3 separate regions of the Homo sapiens genome follow, and regions 2 and 3 are each reported to be linked to region 1. The links are microRNA targets in miRTarBase. Many come from high-throughput screens and were not tested one by one. Region 1 holds a microRNA gene; each other region holds the end of a gene's coding sequence.

The links. Region 1 holds the annotated microRNA hsa-miR-5572 (GUUGGGGUGCAGGGGUCUGCU, at 1,143-1,163, shown strand). A microRNA usually pairs through its seed, bases 2 to 8, with sites in the 3' UTR of a target mRNA and lowers its output. Matches are read on the target gene's strand: a 7mer-m8 pairs with bases 2 to 8, a 7mer-A1 pairs with bases 2 to 7 and ends in A, and an 8mer does both.
Region 2: the mRNA of TNRC18 is a reported target of hsa-miR-5572. Seed matches in the 3' UTR shown: 7mer-m8 at 670-676 and 7mer-m8 at 883-889.
Region 3: miRTarBase lists PDLIM5 as a target of hsa-miR-5572. Seed matches in the 3' UTR shown: 7mer-m8 at 2,809-2,815.

What each region holds. Positions count from the first base shown.
Region 1 is chr15:80,580,037-80,583,287 of GRCh38, forward strand. MIR5572 (microRNA 5572) reads left to right here and starts at 1,067; the gene lies at 1,067-1,203. ARNT2 (aryl hydrocarbon receptor nuclear translocator 2) reads left to right here. Exons shown (of 19, transcript NM_014862.4): 16 at 375-513; 17 at 1,203-1,368. It overlaps ARNT2-AS1 (ARNT2 antisense RNA 1), which reads right to left. Exons shown (of 2, transcript XR_007064732.1): 2 at 1-2,725.
Region 2 is chr7:5,305,075-5,308,325 of GRCh38, reverse strand. TNRC18 (trinucleotide repeat containing 18) reads left to right here. Exons shown (of 30, transcript NM_001080495.3): 30 at 14-1,515. The coding sequence ends at 220. SLC29A4 (solute carrier family 29 member 4) reads right to left here. Exons shown (of 11, transcript NM_153247.4): 11 at 1,414-3,251. Among named protein-coding and RNA genes, the nearest start is that of SLC29A4, 24 kb to the right of the region's middle.
Region 3 is chr4:94,663,542-94,666,792 of GRCh38, forward strand. PDLIM5 (PDZ and LIM domain 5) reads left to right here. Exons shown (of 13, transcript NM_006457.5): 13 at 437-3,251. The coding sequence ends at 526. Among named protein-coding and RNA genes, the nearest start is that of BMPR1B-DT, 92 kb to the right of the region's middle.

The DNA of each region.
Region 1 (3,251 bases):
ACAGTGGGACTGATTTTTATTCTAAGAAGCTTCTCTCTTTCTGGGAACCAAATCATCTGCTGAGAGCAGAGGATGTACAGGCATAGGATAGGGGCTGAAGAGTGCGTGGGAGACCCTGGGGAGAACGAGGAGAGGAAGTACCAGACTACTAGACATGGCAGGACTACTCAGCAGTGTAGAGGAAGCCCTGAAGGGAGAGGAGGACGGCCAAGGGGCTTTGAGGCTCACGATGTGTGAGTCATTTTCTCTAGTGACGTGCTGCATGGAGAGAGAGCCAGGAAGATGGCCCAGGGCAGATTGTGTGGTTGGCTGGGCACGTAGACTCATGCAAACCAGGTGTGTCCTCGGGATAAATGCATTTTCCTCTTTTCTAGCTCTTCAGTGGTTCATGTGCCTGGAGTGAATGATATTCAGTCCTCTTCTTCCACGGGCCAGAACATGTCCCAAATCTCCCGGCAGCTAAACCAGAGTCAGGTGGCATGGACAGGGAGTCGTCCGCCCTTTCCGGGACAGGTATGGGCATCTGTGAGGGCATCTCCCCTGGGTGACCAGAGAGGCAGAGCACTCTGGGAAGTGTTTTCTTTGGATTGCGGTTCTGAGGATGGGTCGGCTCCTAGCTGGAACCAACCACCCTAACAGCAGCTGGCTACTCAGGAGCACCATCCACCCTCAGGGCTCTCGGAGAGCCAGGTGCCCAGCCTGCAACTTCAGCAGCCTTTTCTCCTTACAGCCATGCCCTGAGGCAGCTGGCAGGGAAAGGTTGGGCAGGTTGAGACACCTCATCAAGAATGAGCCCCTCACTACTCTGGACCTCTGGCTGCCCCTGCGCCAGGAGGGCATGAAACCACCAACCCTTGTGACATCCCCAGACCCTCATAGTCACTGTGAGGGTGGGTGTTGATTGGGCTGAGGGAGTTCTAGGTGTTCATAATGCCAAGGCCTTGGTAACCAGACTCCAGAGGGCCCGGATCCTCGTAGCCCTGGGGAGTAACTTCAACCAGACGTGCCCCAAAGATCCTGCAGTTCCTGGGCCCTCACACACCGGGCTGATCCCAGGCCTGTGCCTAGCCAGACAAGAGGGTCATGGGGAGTCACTGTCAACCCAGAGCAGGCACTGCCCCTGCGACCAGCCTGGGGCATCGGTTGGGGTGCAGGGGTCTGCTGGTGATGCTTTCCATCTCTTTGCTTTGTCCTGATTGTAGCAAATCCCATCTCAGTCCAGCAAGACTCAGTCATCTCCCTTTGGGATTGGAACGAGCCACACCTACCCGGCAGACCCCTCTTCCTACAGCCCCCTCTCCAGCCCAGCTACCTCCTCGCCAAGTGGGAATGCCTACTCCAGTCTTGCCAACAGGACTCCAGGGTTCGGTAGGTGGGGAATGAGGGAGTGAGATTCTGGGAAAGCCAGCACAAATGCTTTCTGAACAGCCTGAATTCAGGAGGCTGAGCTCCAAGCTCCCAGCTACCAAAACAAGGTCTGGAGGTTTCCAAGCACCTCCTCTCTCTCTGGCTATGAGGAGGCCTATGGTGTTCCTAAGAGACTGGATGCTTAGGCCTTGGCTTTGTGATTTGACTTTATCATTTTCAAGGCATTGGGATGATGTTGCTGTGCTGTGAGGTGATCTGAATACCATTTTAACCCATTATGGCCCTGGCAAGGATTTTCAGGTCCCCCAAGTCAAAAACCTTATAGTCTTGTTTCAAGAAACTAGAGAATAGCTATAGAGACAATCAATTGCATAAATAACACTGCAAAGTTTTCTGTCTCTTTTAAATATTAAAAACACCTATCTTACTTTGTTAACAAAACCTCAGGCCATAGAGGGTTAAGGAACCGCTGTGTCCTGTGCATTTCTCAGGATCCTGGGCCTTGCCCACTCTCCGTGTGTGTAAGGAACCTCCTCAGCATGTCTCCCAGGGCTAGGGTTCCACTCCACGTCAGGACAAGCTCATAAGAGACCCGTGGTCCTGGTAAGAAGTCCAAGCTGGTGCCTGCTTTCTCACAGTGAGGTCACTGGGTGACACCCAGCAGTGCGGCTCATAGAGCTTTTCTCTACAGAATTGATTCCTCAGATGAGCGTGAATCTGAGCCCAAACATCTGAATTTCCACGTGGCAAGTTAAAAGCTTCCATTAGAACTGCTTGTCTGTCAGCCTTATGAACAATTCTGTGCAGGCAGGGCGCGGTGACTCACATCTGTAATCCCAGCACTTTGAAAGGTCAAGGTGGCAGATCACCGGAGCCCAGGAGTTCAAGACTAGCCTGGGCAACATTGCAAAACCCTGTCTCTACAAAAAAAAAAAAAAAAAATTAGCCAGGTGTTGTGGTGCATGCCTGTAATTCCAGCTACTCAGGAGGCTAAGGTGGGAGGATCATTTGATCCCAGGAGGTTGAGGCTGCAGTGAGCCATGATCACACCACTGCACTCCAGCCTGGGTGACACAGTGAGACCCTGTCTGAAAAAACAAAAGAAAGAAAAATGCTGTGCAGAGCCCCTAGCACACAATGGGGAGTTGTCATCTGCTGCCCAGCCCTCCCCACCTCCTCCACTAACAGCAGCACGTCCGTCCCACTCAGCCCGAGGTCTTGGGGCACAGCATTTCCTGAGGCCATGCTTGTCCCTCCAGCCTTAGTCCCATTTACTTGCAGTGTGTCTCCTCTTCGTCTGTTAAGTATTCTCGCCACGTGGTTCACTGGAACCCAGTTTAGAAGCACAGCACCCTGTCTGAGGAAGGAGAAACCCCATAGCAGTTGCTCTCAAGTCAGCCAGGCACTCAGCACGGTTACCACCTTGAGCCCAGAATCCTGTTTCTCAGGATAGCATCCACCTTCCTGCAGTCACACGTGAGATCCTTCTCCACATCTGGTTCCCCACCCGGGTGTGGAGAGACCCCTTCACCTCCTCCTGAAGGTGGGCCTCATAGACTCAAGGCCTCCTGGGTACCTAGTCCTTCCCGGAAGCCCAGGGACCATCTGGCACCGATCTACTCAAAAAAACCTTCAGTGCCAGGCCCCGAATCAGCCCTGGAAGACAGGAGACCTGGTCCCCACCCAGAGAAGGACACAGTCCAGAGACTGGGTCAGGGGAGACAGACAGAGGTAAAGGGAGGCAGGCAGGACAGTCTGCAGGTGCGGCAGCCATGGTCTGCGTGGGGGCCCTTGTGGCTGCAGGCCAGGACAGTCGTTATGTCTGATGGGGTCAAGAGAGGCTTCGGAGCAGAGCTAACACGCAACCGTGGCAAGGTCTTGGA
Region 2 (3,251 bases), not on the chromosome of region 1:
CGCGTGCCCGCAGCGCGCGCTATACCAGTCCTCGCATGTGGACGAAAATGACGTGCAGACGGTGTCGCACAAGTGCCTGGTGGTGGGCCTGGAGCAGTATGAGCAGATGCTGAAGACCAAGAAGTACCAGGACAGCGAGGGCCTGTACTACCTCGCGGGCACCTACGAGCCCACCACGGGCATGATCTTCTCCACGGACGGCGTGCCCGTGCTCTGCTGAGCCCGCCGGGCCCTGCGGGCCACCTGTGCCCCGAGGGCGGCCAGGGACCCATCTCCATCACTGCCATGGCGCGGAGACCACGTGCGTTGTGTGCATGCGAGCGCTCCTGCAGGCGTGTGCATGGGGCCAGGTGTGCACGTGGATGCCCGGGTGAGTGTGTGTGCATGCACGTGTGTGCACGCATGTGCACATGCCTCCAGCCCCACCTTCCAACCCCTCAGTGCCCCCAGGACAGGGGCCCCTCTTAGCTATCAGGGTATGGCCGGACCGGCCCTTCCTGCCCAGCACGTTGCAAGCACTTGGCCAGGCCGGCCCTCCAGGCTGCTGCTGCGTGGGGGCCCGGGTGCCCCCAGGTCCATGCAGACTGGGGATTCGGTGGGGAGGGGCGCTTCTAAGGAACCAAACTGACGCTCACTCTGGGCTTCCCAAGCACCCTTAGCATGGAGCCCACCCCAAGGCCTCCCACCGTGCATGGGACAGGGCAGCCCGATGCCAGCTGGCCTACCTGACTGTGCCAGGGGCCCTGCCCCCACCCTCTCAGGATGGCCTAGACTTGGGGAACAGAGCCGGGTGGGGTTGCAGCCCGGAGTGTCTGTCAAAGGCACCAGGTGGAGAGGGCCCGGCACAGGCCCACCCTGGTCCAAACCCTCACACTACAGAAAACCCCAATGGTGCTGAAACTGTCGCCCGGCCACGCCTGGCCCCTCCCCACCCAGGAGGGAGGTGGCACTTCTTAACCTGTACAGTTTTATTGTACCAAGAGACTCGCCCCGCCCCTGTATCATAAGCCTTTAAATGGAGTCAACTTTTTAATTATATATATAAAGATAAATATATATAAATATATATATAAACTTTTTAAAACTGTGAAAAATAGCTATGAAATTATAAAAAAAAACATTCTGACGTGCAGAATATTATTTTTTATTTCCTGTTAGATTATAGTGTCTAGCACCGGCTTCACCGGCCTCCCAGTCCCCAGCACACCCCCCGCCCACCCCACCAAGTGTACTGTACTCACCCCCCAGGATAGAGAAGTGTTTGTTAGGGAGAGAAGAGGGAGAGGCAGGAGCCGGCCCAAGCCCAGGGTCCCTGCTTGGGCCCCAGAAAGCACTTAACCAGGCCCCAAGCCTTCAAGGGAAACCAAGGCCTCAACCAGACAATCTTGAGGGAAGGAAAAGCCAGACTTTGGGTTTGTTTTTTGGGGGAATTATTGGTTTTTTTTTTTATGTTTCTTTTGGAATTTTGTTTGTTGGCAAATTCTGTGTGATCTTTTTTCATAAAAAAAAAGAAAAGATTTAATTGGAAAAATAAAATTGTCTGGAGTGGTTTATTTCAGGGGCTGGAGTAGGGGTGGTGTCTGGGGGCATTCTGCCATATCAGGGCACCAAGAAGCAGGATTCGACTGGAAGAAGTTGGGTGCCACGCGTGCAGGGGCGGTGACCCCATGCAGCCATCTAAATGAGCTCATCGGCTGGGCACAGTGGCTCACGCCTGTAATGCCAGCACTTTGGGAGGCCAAGGCAGGCGGATCACTTGAAGTCAGGAGTTCGAGACCAGCCTGGCCAATATGGTGAAACCCCATCTCTACTAAAAATACAAAAAAAAATTAGCCAGGTGTGGTAGAGCGTGCCTGTAATCCCAGCACTTTAGGAGGCCGAGGCGGGAGGATCACTTCAGGCCAGGAGTTTCAGACCAGCCTGAGCAATGTGGTGAAACCCCGTCTCTACTAAAAATACAAAAATTAGCCGGGTGTGGTGGCCCACACCTGTAATCCCAGCTACTCGGGAGGCTGAGGTGGGAAAATCACAGGGACCCGGCGGGTGGAGGTTGCAGTGAGTTGAGATCGCACCACTGCACTCTGGCCTGGGGGTGACAGAGATTGTCTCAAAAAAAAAAAAAAAAAAAAAAAAAGAAATTGAACAAATTTACATGAGAAAAAATTAAAAGTTAAGTTGGATGGGCACGGTGGCTCACGCCTGTAATCCCAGCACTTTGGGAGGCCAAGGGAGGCGGATCACTTGAGGTCAGGAGTTCAAGACCAGCCTGGCCAATATGGTGAAACCCCATCTCTACTAAAAATACAAAAAAATTAGCCGGGTGTGGTGGAGCGTGCCTGTAATCCCAGCTACTTGGGAGGCTGAGGCAGGAGAATCGCTTGAACCCACGGCAAAGGTTACAGTGAGCTGAGATCGTGCCACTGCCCTCCAGCTGGGGTGACATAACGAGATTCCATCTCAAAAAACCAGTGCCAGGCATGGTGGCTCATGCCTGTAATCCCAGCACTTTGGGAGGCTGAGGCAGGTGGATCACCTGAGGTCGGGAGTTCAAGACCAGCCTGACCAACATGGAGAAACCTCGTCTCTACTAAAAGCACAAAATTAGCCGGGCATGGTGGCACATGCCTGTAATCCCAGCTACTCGGGAGGCTGAGGCAGGAGAATCGCTTGAACCCGGCAGGCAGAGGTTGCAGTGAGCTGAAATCGAGCCATTGCACTCCAGCCTGGGCAACAAAAGCGAAACTCCTCCAAAAAAAAAAAAAAAAAAAGCAAAGCTGCACATTTCCAGCCATGCCTACCACAAAATGATACTAGAAGAAAATGATACTAATGCTAAGAGTGGCCCCAAGCCCTCACCTAGATGGGGGTGGACGGCATCTCTGCACTGGGGCCTAGGGAAGCTATAGGTGGGGGTCTGGCTGCCCAGTGACTGACCTGGTTAGTGTGGGTGGCCTGCAGAGGACATTCGGGGCTTTGCAAAGAGGGTAACCCATGGAGGGCAGCCAGCCGGCCTCGGGCAAGGGAAGGGCCCGGCATGGGCTCTGGGAAACACTCTGGTGTCACCTGGCGCAGTCTTGGCCCAAGTGGCCGCCCACCTGGGCCCCAGGGAGGATGCCTGCCAGAGCATAGGTGGCCCTCGTGCCCTCCTTTACGGGACCCACATCAAAACCTGGACCAGCCCCATTCCTTGGGGAAGCTAAGGACAGAACAGGCCAGGCGCAGTGACTCATACCTGTAATCCTGGCACTTTG
Region 3 (3,251 bases), not on the chromosome of region 1:
CTGTGCCTGTGTAACTGGCAGCAAGCTAATGTTGGGCTTGGGAAGGTTTGGTAAAGCAAATGAGTCTCTACAACACAAAGCAAAATTAGGACGTTGTTTATAATTTGGGGAGATAAAATATATTTAACGAGCCCCCTTTCTATATTGATTTTCAAGTTAGGGATAAATCTTCCCTCTGGATAAAGAAAAGTGATGATCAGTGCTTTCTATAAATTAGAATACATTCTAGGAAAAAGCAATTTTTCATTGCTTTTGAAAGATTATATCTAATGTTATAGTAATCGTCAAATATTAGGGAGTCTAACTTAACCAACTAAAGTGTTTTGTCATATTATCCATTGGGGGGAAAAATCACTCTCTCCTTCTCCAGCATACTGGGTAAAATCCTCTTAATATCCTCTTAAATAATATCTCTTAAATGCTGCTTCTTTTTCAGGTGTGTTGTGAAAGTTTGGAAGGTCAGACCTTTTTCTCCAAGAAGGACAAGCCCCTGTGTAAGAAACATGCTCATTCTGTGAATTTTTGAAAGTCAACAGTTCAGGAGAAGAGAAGGAATTTGAAGAGAAAAAGGAAAATTAAAATTACTAATTAATTTTTAGATTCAATATTTATATGGAGTTTTGAAAAATAATAGTGGCCCTGAAGGAATAAATTCCAGCTTTAAAAACCAAGTCTGAGGAAATATTTGGCTTCATAAAGTAAAGAGACGGTTTGGCATTTATTATTACTTTTTCCTGTATTTTATGCCCATAAAATAAGCTTTATAAAAACCAATTTCCTGATGGACTATTAAATTCATCTTAGAATAAATTAGTGAAGAATTTAATTTTAGAATAAATAATCCAATCTGAAATAATTATACCTTCTTTCCTTGTTAGGTAGTTATGAGTAAATCTGCAAAAGGCAATGAAAATGCCTTAAATTTTATCAATAACAGAATTATTGTATTTAAAAAAAAACTAATACTTATCTTTAAAATAGTAAATAGGATTTTAAACAGAGAATTTTATCAGTAATAGGTGTCAGTTTTTAAAAAATTGCTTGTAGGCTGAGCGCGGTGGCTCACGCCTGTAATCCCAGCACTTTGGGAGGCCAAGGTGGGTGGACCACATGAGGTCAGGAGTTTGAGATCAGCCTGGCCAACATGGTGAAACCCCATCTCTACTAAAAATACAAAAATTAGCCGGACGCAGTGGCACGCGCCTGTAATCCCAGCTACTCAAGAGGCTGAGGCACGAGAATCACTTGAACCCGGGAGGGAGAGGTTGCAGTGAGCCAAGATCGTACCACTGCACTCCAGCCTGGGTGACAGAGTGAGACTCTGTCTCCAAAAAAAAACTTTGCTTGTATATTATTTTTGCCTTACAGTGGATCATTCTAGTAGGAAAGGACAATAAGATTTTTTATCAAAATGTGTCATGCCAGTAAGAGATGTTATATTCTTTTCTCATTTCTTCCCCACCCAAAAATAAGCTACCATATAGCTTATAAGTCTCAAATTTTTGCCTTTTACTAAAATGTGATTGTTTCTATTCATTGTGTATGCTTCATCACCTATATTAGGCAAATTCCATTTTTTTCCCTTGTGCTAAGGTAAAGATTTAATTAAATAATTTTGGCCTCTCATAGTTTTCTCTCTCTTTAAAGAGAATAAATAGAGGGCCAGGTGTGGTGGCTCACGCCTGTGATCCCAGCACTTTGGGAGGCCAAGACGGGCGGATCATGAGGTCAAGAGATCAAGATCATCCTGGCCAACATGGTGAAACCCTGTCTCTACTAAAAATACAAAAATGAGCTGGGCATGGTGGGGCGTGCCTGTAGTCCCATGTACTTGGGAGGCTGAGGCAGGAAAATTCTTGAACCCAGGAGACGGAAGTTGCAGTGAGCTGAGATCACACCACTGCACTCCAGCCTGGTGACAGAGCAAGACTCCGGCTCTTAAAAAAAAAAAAAAAAAAAAAAAAAGAGAGAGAGAGAATAAATAGAAAAGAATGTGGCTGGGAATTGTGAATCAGAAGATTATACCCCCCAATTGTTTTTCAATCCCCTTTTCTCAAATAATAAATTAGTTAAATCAGTTTCTGAGTTATGCCACTGGCTGATGAAGAGTTGAGAGGTCTCTTTGCAGAATGATCTTTTTGTTTCGTTTTGTTTCTTCTTCTGCATTTAAAAATTAAAAGATTGGTTTGAGGATGTGATGAAATTGAGACTTTTTGTGGTTTTCTCTCAATAATAAGTGAACCAATTTCAAATGTGATCACAAAGTTTGGAAAGCTTTTATTCACAGAGGTTGGGTAGTGTTGGGAGGGGAGTTTAATTACTCAGATTGGCCTGTTATTTGATTTCCTCCTTTGGGAAAAGAATTATGTAGATACCACATGGAGACAGGGAAACAATTGTGGTAAAACTGTGGATCCTGTTGCTATTTGCCCAGTGAGAAAACAGATTCTGGTATTTGATTTGGTTTTTCTCTTTGTTTCCAGAATGGATGAAAGTCCATGAACCTCCTAAGTTATAATTTAAATTTGTTTGGGGCAAGGTGATTTTATAGTCGAGACAGAGCCCTAGGTCCTTCCTGCCCCATCACTCACTTACGACATCACTTCCATTGTGTGCATGTTTGTTATAGAGGAGGTTTTAGGCTACAATATTTGTTTAACCTCCCTAAGAACTTTCAAGGCATCTGTCCTGAAAGCTGTTAATTTATGGTCTAGCAGATTTATATTATATGCAGATAATAATTAACTGGGGATAAAAGAATGGCAAGGGGTGACACAAAGTAGCAAACTGAATACTTCTCCAATAGCAACCCCAAGCTACCTCCTCACCCTGCATCTTGGAGGGAGGCAGGAAATTTCTTTTGAAATAAAGTGCTGGAGCTGAATTCTGCATTATTTATCGTTGCTGCTGAAACCACCTATAAAAGACTTGCTGGCTAATGTGCATTGTCATATAATGTACACTGTCACATCTTTACAGTCTTGTATGTTATAGAATACAAAATAAGTTGATGGTTTTGTTTGGTGTGAGCTTTTTGTTTGTTTGTTTAGTTTTGCCTTCATAGGTTATATGCCAAGATAGTATTTGATAAGTCAATGACATTTGGATGTTTTCTTCAAAGAATTTTATTTGACCCAGATTTCTTATAAAGTTATCTTACATTAAGGATGTCATTTTCATCAGACCTTCTTTCTACATATTATTCATGAAGCATAATGTTGCATTTCTCCAAATTTTATGCCTGAAAGGGT